2 separate regions of the Homo sapiens genome follow, and region 2 is linked to region 1. The links come from fine-mapping of genetic effects on gene expression. A gene starts in region 1. The other region holds a variant in brackets. All regions are shown on one strand. Distances are from middle to middle.

The links. PIP is the estimated chance that this variant, and not a neighbour inherited with it, causes the effect.
Region 2: its variant is the best candidate, but not a certain one, in a credible set for the expression of DHX30 in whole blood (TOPMed, PIP 0.63).

The regions. Positions count from the first base shown.
Region 1 is chr3:47,801,155-47,805,546 of GRCh38, forward strand. It overlaps DHX30 (DExH-box helicase 30), which reads left to right and starts at 1,984. Exons shown (of 22, transcript NM_138615.3): 1 at 1,984-2,058; 2 at 4,172-4,266. RefSeq lists silencers at 1,555-2,404, 3,582-3,778 and an enhancer at 2,129-2,654.
Region 2 is chr3:47,604,167-47,608,558 of GRCh38, forward strand. All of the region lies in intron 26 of SMARCC1 (SWI/SNF related BAF chromatin remodeling complex subunit C1), which reads right to left. The region is part of intron 2 of LOC124906234 (a long non-coding RNA gene); the gene reads left to right. Among named protein-coding and RNA genes, the nearest start is that of CSPG5, 27 kb to the left of the region's middle. The variant G/A (reference allele first, on the strand shown) is at 2,787.

The DNA of each region.
Region 1 (4,392 bases):
AGTAAAAATACAAAAATGAGCTGGGCATGGTAGTGCACACCTGTAATTCCAGCTACTTGGGAGGCTGAGGCAGGAGAATCGCTTGAACGTGGGAGGTAGAGGTTGCAGTGAGCCGCAACCACCCCACTGCACTCCAGCCTGGGTGACTGAGTAGAGACTCTGTCTCAACAACAACAAAAAAGTGCAGTATTTTACTCTCCTAATAATTTTTTAAATGTCTTACCAAAAAAAGTAAAAATTCCTTAGTATGGCACTCCCCAACAGTTTTTCAGTTCTATTTCCTGTAAAGCTTGCACACACATCCAACCCTGTGGTCACACTGAACTACTGAATATTCCTAGGATTTGTCCCTTGTTCCACTCGTATGTCTTTGTTCACGTTCCTTTCATTTTGCCATTCAGGAGTAACCACTCCTTTCTCTGAACTCTTGGAGTACCTAATACCTCCTTTCCAGCATTTACCACTTTCCATTTCCTTCACACAATGTTGTCATCTTCTCTACTAGGCTCTAAGTCCCTTGAGGCAGGGCCTTTGTAGCCTCCACACCAGCTTAGCAACTGATACACAGAGCACTCAGATGTCCGTGCAGGGATCTCTCTATTCTCCACACAACACAGCACCATGCCCTGTTCAGATGCACTAATTATTTGAATGAATAAATGATGTTCCACCCCCACACCCCGGTCTTCTAGCCAATGTAGAGAGAAAGAAAAGAGATACATGTTGAACTGTTTGCACACAAAAGTGACGGGATATGGCACTAATTCTTCATACAGCCTCAAAGGTCACATCTTTTTTTTTTTTTTTTTTTAAGTTTCATTCTTGTCGCCCAGGCTGGAGTTCAATGACACGATCTCGGCTTACTGCAACATCCGCCTCCCGGGTTCAAGTGATTCTCCTGCCTCAGCCTCCCGAAGTAGCTAGGATTATATGCGCCCGCCACCACGCCCAGCTAATTTTTTTGCATTTTTAGTTGAGACGGGGTTTCACCATGTTGGCCAGGCTGGTTTTGAACTCCTGACCGCAGGTGATCCACCCGCCTTGGCCTCCCAAAGTGCTGGGATTACAGGCGTGAGCCACCACGCCCGGCCTAAAGGCCACATCTTAAAACCATACTCTGTAAAATCCTGACCCAGCTTCAGAGCTACGCCACTGCGTTGTTTCCTTTTGAAGCTGAATTCCACTGAACCTATACTTGAACCTTATCTAGAGGACTACAGCGTGTAATTGGGACAATCCCCTTTCTCATTCCTAAGAGGTGATGTGGCCGGGCGGACCTCCAGATTTCCAGCAACTATGACTGGCACTCTCCCCGCGACCAGCAAGTGCCACCTTGTCCTTTGCCTAACGTTGTACAGTTTACGAAATCAACGAACCAACACGTTGATTTCATCTTCCCTGCAAACTGGGGAGACAAGACAAAAATGCTCACCTCCCTAAAAAAACAGATTAGAGGGGAGATGGGGAAGAGAAGAGGCGTGGCTACGAGCTGTGGCGGGGAAGGCGGGTGGAATCCCGGAGCCCGAGCTGGAAACCGTTCCCCGCTCAGCCATGACCCGGGCTGTTTATTCGCATCAGGAGGCGCGGGTGGCTCGCAGAGGGCGAGAAGACCCTTCCCGCTTTCACACTGCAGGCAGCTAAGTCGCCGAGAAAGGCAGCAACTTGACGCCCGACCCCGCCACCCAAACCCGCTCGCTCTGCGACCCCAGAGCAGCCGGCGCCAACCCGTCCCCTTCGCGACTCCGCCGGAAGTCCCGCCTGCACCGCCGCCGCGCCCCATTGGGCCGGGTGCTGGGGCATCCCGGGCGCTGGGTGCCCCGAGCGGCTACGACGAGTCCCAGGTGGGGCCGGGCTCCAGGCCCGCGGGGGAGCGGAGCCGTGCGCCGCAGGCGGGCTCCGTGACGCCGGGTGGGGAACGCCGGGCCGGTGGCGGGACTTCCGCCACGGGACTCGGAAGGGGCCGCGCCGCCGCTGCTGGGAGTTGTAGTCCGGCCGTGGTTGGGGGAGCCGCGGCTCATGCGCGGTGCACAGAGGCTTGTTTCACATCTGTAACAACAGGTGAATTGGGCTTTTTATTCTCCCCTTTCGTGCCCTCTTGAGGAGCCTGCCGCGGCCGGGGGTGGTCGTCGTGAGGAGGGGGCCCGGTCCGACCGCCAGCCTGGCGGAGAGTGGGGCGGAGACGCCGGCGGGCCCGAGGAGCAGGCCGGGCATCCTAGGCCTGCCCGGGAAGCCGGCCCGGCCGATCCGTGGGCAGCCAGGCCTCGGCCTGCCGTTGCCATGGAGCCCGGGCGGGGGCGGGGGCCAGACCGGTCCGCCGGGGCGGGCCTCGCAGCCAGGGGCTCCGCGGAGGCCGTGGGAGAGGCCGCTTCATTGGCGCAACGACGCCTTCGCCTCGGGATGCGCCGTTTCCCCAGGCAGGGCCTGGAGGAAGCCTCCTGAGTGCCCCGAGACCTTTGTCTACTTCTCCTCCTTCCCGGTGCTGCCCGGACCGTTCGTCCAGAGGGAGGCCCGGTGCCTTCTGGCCCCCCTAGTTTGCCCCCTTTTGCACCGACCTTGTCACTGGGGGAGGCCAAGGGGTGAGGTATTCTTTGTTTGCTGGTGGTAACTTGTCCCATTTAGCAGGGGAAGACCAAATGCATGTTGGGTCCTTTGTTTGCAGTGAACTGGAGTCCCAGGGGTCCTCAGAAACCCTAAGCCAGGGATATGGCATATCTAGTCGTTGTGTAGCAACATTGGTCACTTGAATTATGATTTTTCAAGGCAGAGGCTGTTTCACTTTACAACCCCACTCCATGAGGGTTTGCCATACACTAGCAGGTAGACTGCAGAAGGCCACTTACAGGCTTTCAACCTGGTTTTAGTTGCAGCTTATGGGCCAGAGTGAAATGAGACGTTGTCTGGTGATTTCCCTTGAAGTTTCTTGCAAGGTGGTAACCCCACTGTCATTGTGGGTTTTAACTACATCTTGTAATTTACACTTAAATCTTAGAGATTTAAGGCGATGTGCAGAAACTACATCCTTTGCTGCGTTTTCTACCGGTGTTGGCTCTTTATCCCTAAAAGATAGTTGCTCTTCAAGTGTTTTAATTTATGTAGCTGTGATACAAAGTTTTATTAGGGCCGGGAGCGGTGTCTCACGCCTGTAATCCCAGCACTTTGGGAGGCCGAGGCGGGTGGATCACCTGAGGTCAGAAGTTTGAGACCAGCCTGGCCAACATGGCTAGACCTCGTTTCTACTAAAAATACAAAAATTAGCCGGGCATGGTGGCGTGCGCCTGTAACCCTAGCTACTTGGGAGGCTGAGGCAAGAGAATTGCTTGAACCCAGGAGGCCGAGGTTGCAGTGAGCCAAGATCGCGCCATTTCACCCCAGCCTGGGCAACAAGAGCGAAACTCCTTCTCAAAACAAAACAAAACAAAAACCACACACAAGTTTTATTAGCTGTTGGACCTTTCTTGCCCCTTTCAGCCTTTGAAGATAACAGTATAATATGTCTCAAGGAATGAACCGTAGTACATTTAGGCAACAGCATAATATCCTGGAAATAAGAAAATTAGCCTAGTATAAGCATGGAGGGTTTTGGAGTCAGCATGCTTCAATGCTGATTTCCATCTGCCCTGAGGCAGCTATGGGATCTTGGGCAGGTTGTGTAACCTGTGCTTCAGTTTTCTTCTCTGGAAAGATAATTCCTACCTCACTGGATAGTTGCCTGGATTAAATGGGGTAAAGTCTATGGAAGTATGTTGTGAACTGTAAAAATGGTATTCAACTTTGAGTTATTGTTATTTTCCCAATCTTGAAGAGTATTATAGCTTCTTTATGTTAGATTATCATAATTATTATGGGATTAGAACTCAAAGTGGAAGTAGGTTTTGCTCTGGGCTTCCAGAAAATGCTTTTCAGGCTTACAAGGCTTTCTTTACCTTGACATCTTCTTAGATGATGTCAGAAGACTTCAGCACTTCTACAGGTGCTGGTGTAGGACAGCTTACAATTTAATGGGCCTAGAATGGGTCATGGTAAGTCCTGATTTGTAAGGCCATTTTGTCCAGTATGTGCCCTTCATGCCACTAACAAAATTTGTCCTTGTTAGAGCTAGTAAATGATGGTTGGAGCAACTTTCTTTCCCTATGGGGCCTCCACTGTATTGACTCAGCGTTGTACTTCTCAGGAGGAGGCCCAGCCTCGTGATGAGGAATAGCAAGGAGAGAATTCAGCTCCAGTTCAAAAGCCTACAAAATCTGAGACTGTCATTGCTTTTATAAGGTAAGTTGATTTAGCCGTGCACAGAGCAGTGGTGGATCTGATGCTCAGCTGTACTGTAAAACAAGAGGTATGTGTTAAACCTATTTCTGACCATTTTGGAAGAAGGATATCATTTATTTTATTTTG
Region 2 (4,392 bases), 200 kb before region 1:
AGATTCATAATACCAAGCTGCTACTTTAACAGGCTCTACCACTAACTGATGGAGAGTTTTGTAGAGAAGAATTACATGTAACTTATCTGCATACTTATACAGAGGCCAGAGAGATGAAAAATTAACCACTTGGTAATAAATCTGCCTAGTCCCTCCTCTCAGCACTTCCCCAACCTTACTGGCATTCAGAAGCTGATTATTCCCATCATATATCATAAAGTCGAGCCAAATACCAAAGACAGCCAACTGACCCAGATAATCTTCAGCTCCCAATGTAAGCTGTGGCCTGTTAACTTTTCTGGAACTTAGGAATCATGAGTTGGAAGGACCTGCTCATAGTTCTTACCTTACCCTGTGGCAACTCAGAGACTAAAGCCATTCTGGCCCCAAAATGCTACGGACAATCTTACTTGCCCTGGTTTGAAAGTCCTTTTTAGCTGACCTTTAGAATATGGTCTATCAGACCTACGTGCTAGAACCAGCTTTTTCTGAACTGGTAACTTTAAAATAGTGGGTTTAATTTACTGTTGTTCTTTTTTTTTTTTTTTGAGATAGGGTCTCTCACTCTGTTGCCCAGGCTGGAGTGCAGTGGCATGACCTCGGCTCACTGCAACTTCTGCCTCCTGGGTTCAAGCGATTCCCGTGCCTCGGCCTCCTGAGTAGCTGGAATTACAGGTGTGTGCCACCATACCCGGCTAATTTTCCTATTTTTAGTAGAGATGGGCTTTTGCCATGTTGGCCAGGCACTGGTCTTGAATTCCTGGCCTCAAGTGGTCCACCTGCCTTGGCTTCCCAAAGTGTTGGGATTACAGGCGTAAGCCACCGCGCCCAGCCTAATGTGCTGTTGCTTTTAATTTTACTCTTTAACAGACTTGATTTTATATTCAAACTCCAAAGCAACCCAACAAAAGGGGTAATTTGGAAAAATTATTATCTTGAATTGCTGGAACTCTCACATACTGCTAGAGTGTAAACAGGCACCACCACTTTGCAAAAAGTTTGGCAGCATCTATTAATCTGAACATATGCATATCCTATGATCCACTCTTAGGTTCATAAATACTCAATTCTACACCTTAGGGATATATACAACAGAAATGTACATATATGTCTTATCAAAAGACGTGCTCATGTATTTCACAACAGCACAAACTATTCATAATAACTAAAATCCAGAAATCAGTCAAATGTCCAACAGAACAGACTAATAAATAGTACAGCCACAGAACACTGTATAGCAAACAGAAGGAACAAATGTACAACCACAAACAATAATGTGGACACATCTCAGATATACAGTGTTGAGTGGAAGAAGCCAGATGTGGCCGGGCATGGTGGCTCATGCTTGTAATCCTAACACTTTGGGAGGCGGAGGCGGGAGGACTACTTAAGCCCAGGAGTTCAAGACCAGCCTGGGCAATATAGTGAGCCCATGTCTCTACAAAAAAATTTAAAAGGCAGTGGGGTGTCGTGGTGTGCACTTGTGGTCCCAGCTACTCAAGAGGCTGAGGTGGGAGGATGGCTTGAGCCTGGCAGGTTGAGGCTGCAGTGAGCCCTGATAATGTCACTGCACTCTAGCCTGGGTGACAGAGTAAGGCCCTGTCTGTCTCAAACAAAACAAAACAAGGAAAGCAGCCAGACATAATAAATGTAATTGTGGTTACATTTAGATAACATTCAACCAGCCCAACTAGTCTACGGCGCTAGAAGTCAGGACAGTTGTTATCCTTGGAAGGGAAGGTGACTCAGTATGATGAGGGCCTCTGTGTGTTGGTTACACATGAATATTCTCTGTTAAAACTCATCAATTCTGCAAGTATAAAGGAAGTAAAAAAAAAAAAAACTCAGCTGAATATTTATGATTGTGCATTATCCAAAATGTACATTTTATTTCAATAAAAAATCATGAGACTATCTTGTCATAGACTAAAAATAAAAAAAAAACCTCTCATCATGCACTGCACTCAATAATTCTTTCCTTTACAAATTCACTTTAGAAAAGCCTATTTTTGTGAGAAAGTAAAAAGATTAAAATGACCTATTTCTCTTCCAAAGACTATTTTTATGAACTCTAGTTTGCGGAACTGCTTCACTAGAATAGCTGTATCTGAATCTGCTATAAATCCCCTTAGTCTTCCGTCACGGGAGGCAGCACTGTGGCACTGGCCTCACTTTGGAATCAGATGGAGCTCAGTGTGAATCCTGGCTCTACCATGCAGCAAAGCTATGCGGCCTTGCCATGCATCAGTTCTTCAACTGTAAGGTGAGAATGAGAAATAAGTGAAACAATGTGGGTGAGGGGCATGGCATACAAACACCCATTATCATCAAAATCTCATTTAGGGAAGAAAGTAGACGCACCTCTCTGCCCATCTTTTACAAAGTAAATGCAGATGCTAGCACTCCTTAGATGTTCTGTGAGCAGTTAATGTGAATATGATGCTTTAGCACCATCAAGAGCCAAATACCAAGTAGCTACAGTAAACTTCCTCTTAAAAGTTTATCCCAGTATTTCAGAAACTGAATTTTTATTTATTTATTTATTTTTCAGAGACAGGGTCTCACTCTGTTGCCCAGGCTGGAGTGTAACGGTGCAGTGTCACAATCACAGCTCACTTGCAATCTCAAACTCCTGGGCTCAAGTGATCCTCCAGCCTCAGCCTCCTGAGTAGCTAGGACTACAGGTATGCAGTACCACCACACCTGGCTACTTTTTTTTTTTTTTTTTGGTAGAGACAGCTTCTCTCTATATTGCCCAGGCTGGTCTCAAACTCCTGGGTTCAAGC[G/A]ATCCTCAAGTCTTGGCCTCGCAAAGTGCTGGGATTAATGGTGTGAGCCACCAAGCCTGGCCTAGGAATTTAATTTTTAAATAACTATTGTTCTTGAAAAATTACTTTGAGATGTGAACTCTTAAGCATTTGTATCTTTTGAAAGCTTAACTCTGGAGAAAATCTGATTCCATACAAAGAATTTAAGATCCACTCAAGTAGACAGAAATAAGACTGAGAAAGAATGCACCTTGTTGTGAGCAGGGTAAACTTCTAAGGCTATCTCCACAAATGTCATTTAGAGTGGCAAGTCTGACGATGGTAGTAATTCTTATGATTGCAAATTAATCCTGTGAGTGTGTGTAAACGAAAGCTTCCCAAAGTAAACTTAGCCCTGTTTTTCGGTAAAGTCAATAAAAACTACTAAAACTACAGCCTAAAATATATTTTGGGTTGTGAATAAGTGTGTTGATAATACCGTGACTTGGACAGAGAATTTGCATCCCATCCCCAAAAGCACAAACTTTGGCTCTAAGCACTTGGTATATTACTGTGGATAAGCAAACTATAAAAATCTTACAAGATGACTTTCACTAGACTAACATAAAACACAGCACACACCCATATATATTGCCCTCTAAGAAGAGAAGGAATGTGGGGTTTGGGGGGTGAACTGGAATTAAAAGTACATCTTAGGTTTTAATGATGCTGGCAGTTAAGCTTGAAGGAACTATGAGTTCAACTTCCAAAGTAGTTAAAATTTAGTAAACAATAGCCAACTCGAAACAGTTCTCACAAGCTACAAATGGGACAATTTTAGCATCAAAAAAAGCCAGGCACAGTGGAACGTGCCTATAATCCAGCTACTTCAGAAGCTGAGGCAGGGGGATTGCTTGAGCCCAGGAATTTGGGTCCAGTCTGGGCAACTCAGTGAGACCCAACCTCTTTTAAGAAGCAACAAGAAACACAAATAGTATCTATGATAGACTGAAACACACAAAATATTAAAAAATTTATAATTTTACAATATTAAAAATATACACAAAAAAACCCTTTGCTGGTCACCTTTGGTTACTGAGGGGCAGCAACTCATTATACAGATAACCAATAGAGGGAAAATATGAAGCATTTATCCAGGCTTTCCTATAAGAACTGATTTTCAGGGTAACTAACTGAGACACAGTCTCGCTCTGTCACCCAGGCTGGAGTGCAATGGCACAATCTTGGCTCACTGCAACCTCCGCCTCCTAGGTTCAAGCAATACCCATGCCTCAGCCTCCTGAGTAGATGGGACTGCAGATGTGCACCATTACACCTGGCTAATTTTTGTATTTTCAGTAGACACAGGGTTTTGCCATTTTGGCCAAGCTGGTCTCGAACTCCTGACTCAGGTGATCCGCCCGCCTCGGCCTCCCAAAGTGCTGGAATTACAGGCATGAACCATTGCGCCCGGCCTAAAATAGCTAATTTAAGAAGCAATTCTGAACGCTCAATTCTAAAACAATTTAGTCGAATGGGGATTTTTATAATGGATGATCCGACTGACAACACCAGAACTACTGATCAATCTTAATTACCACAAAAAGAAAAACTGACACTACAAGAATGCCTGACCTCATAAGTGAAT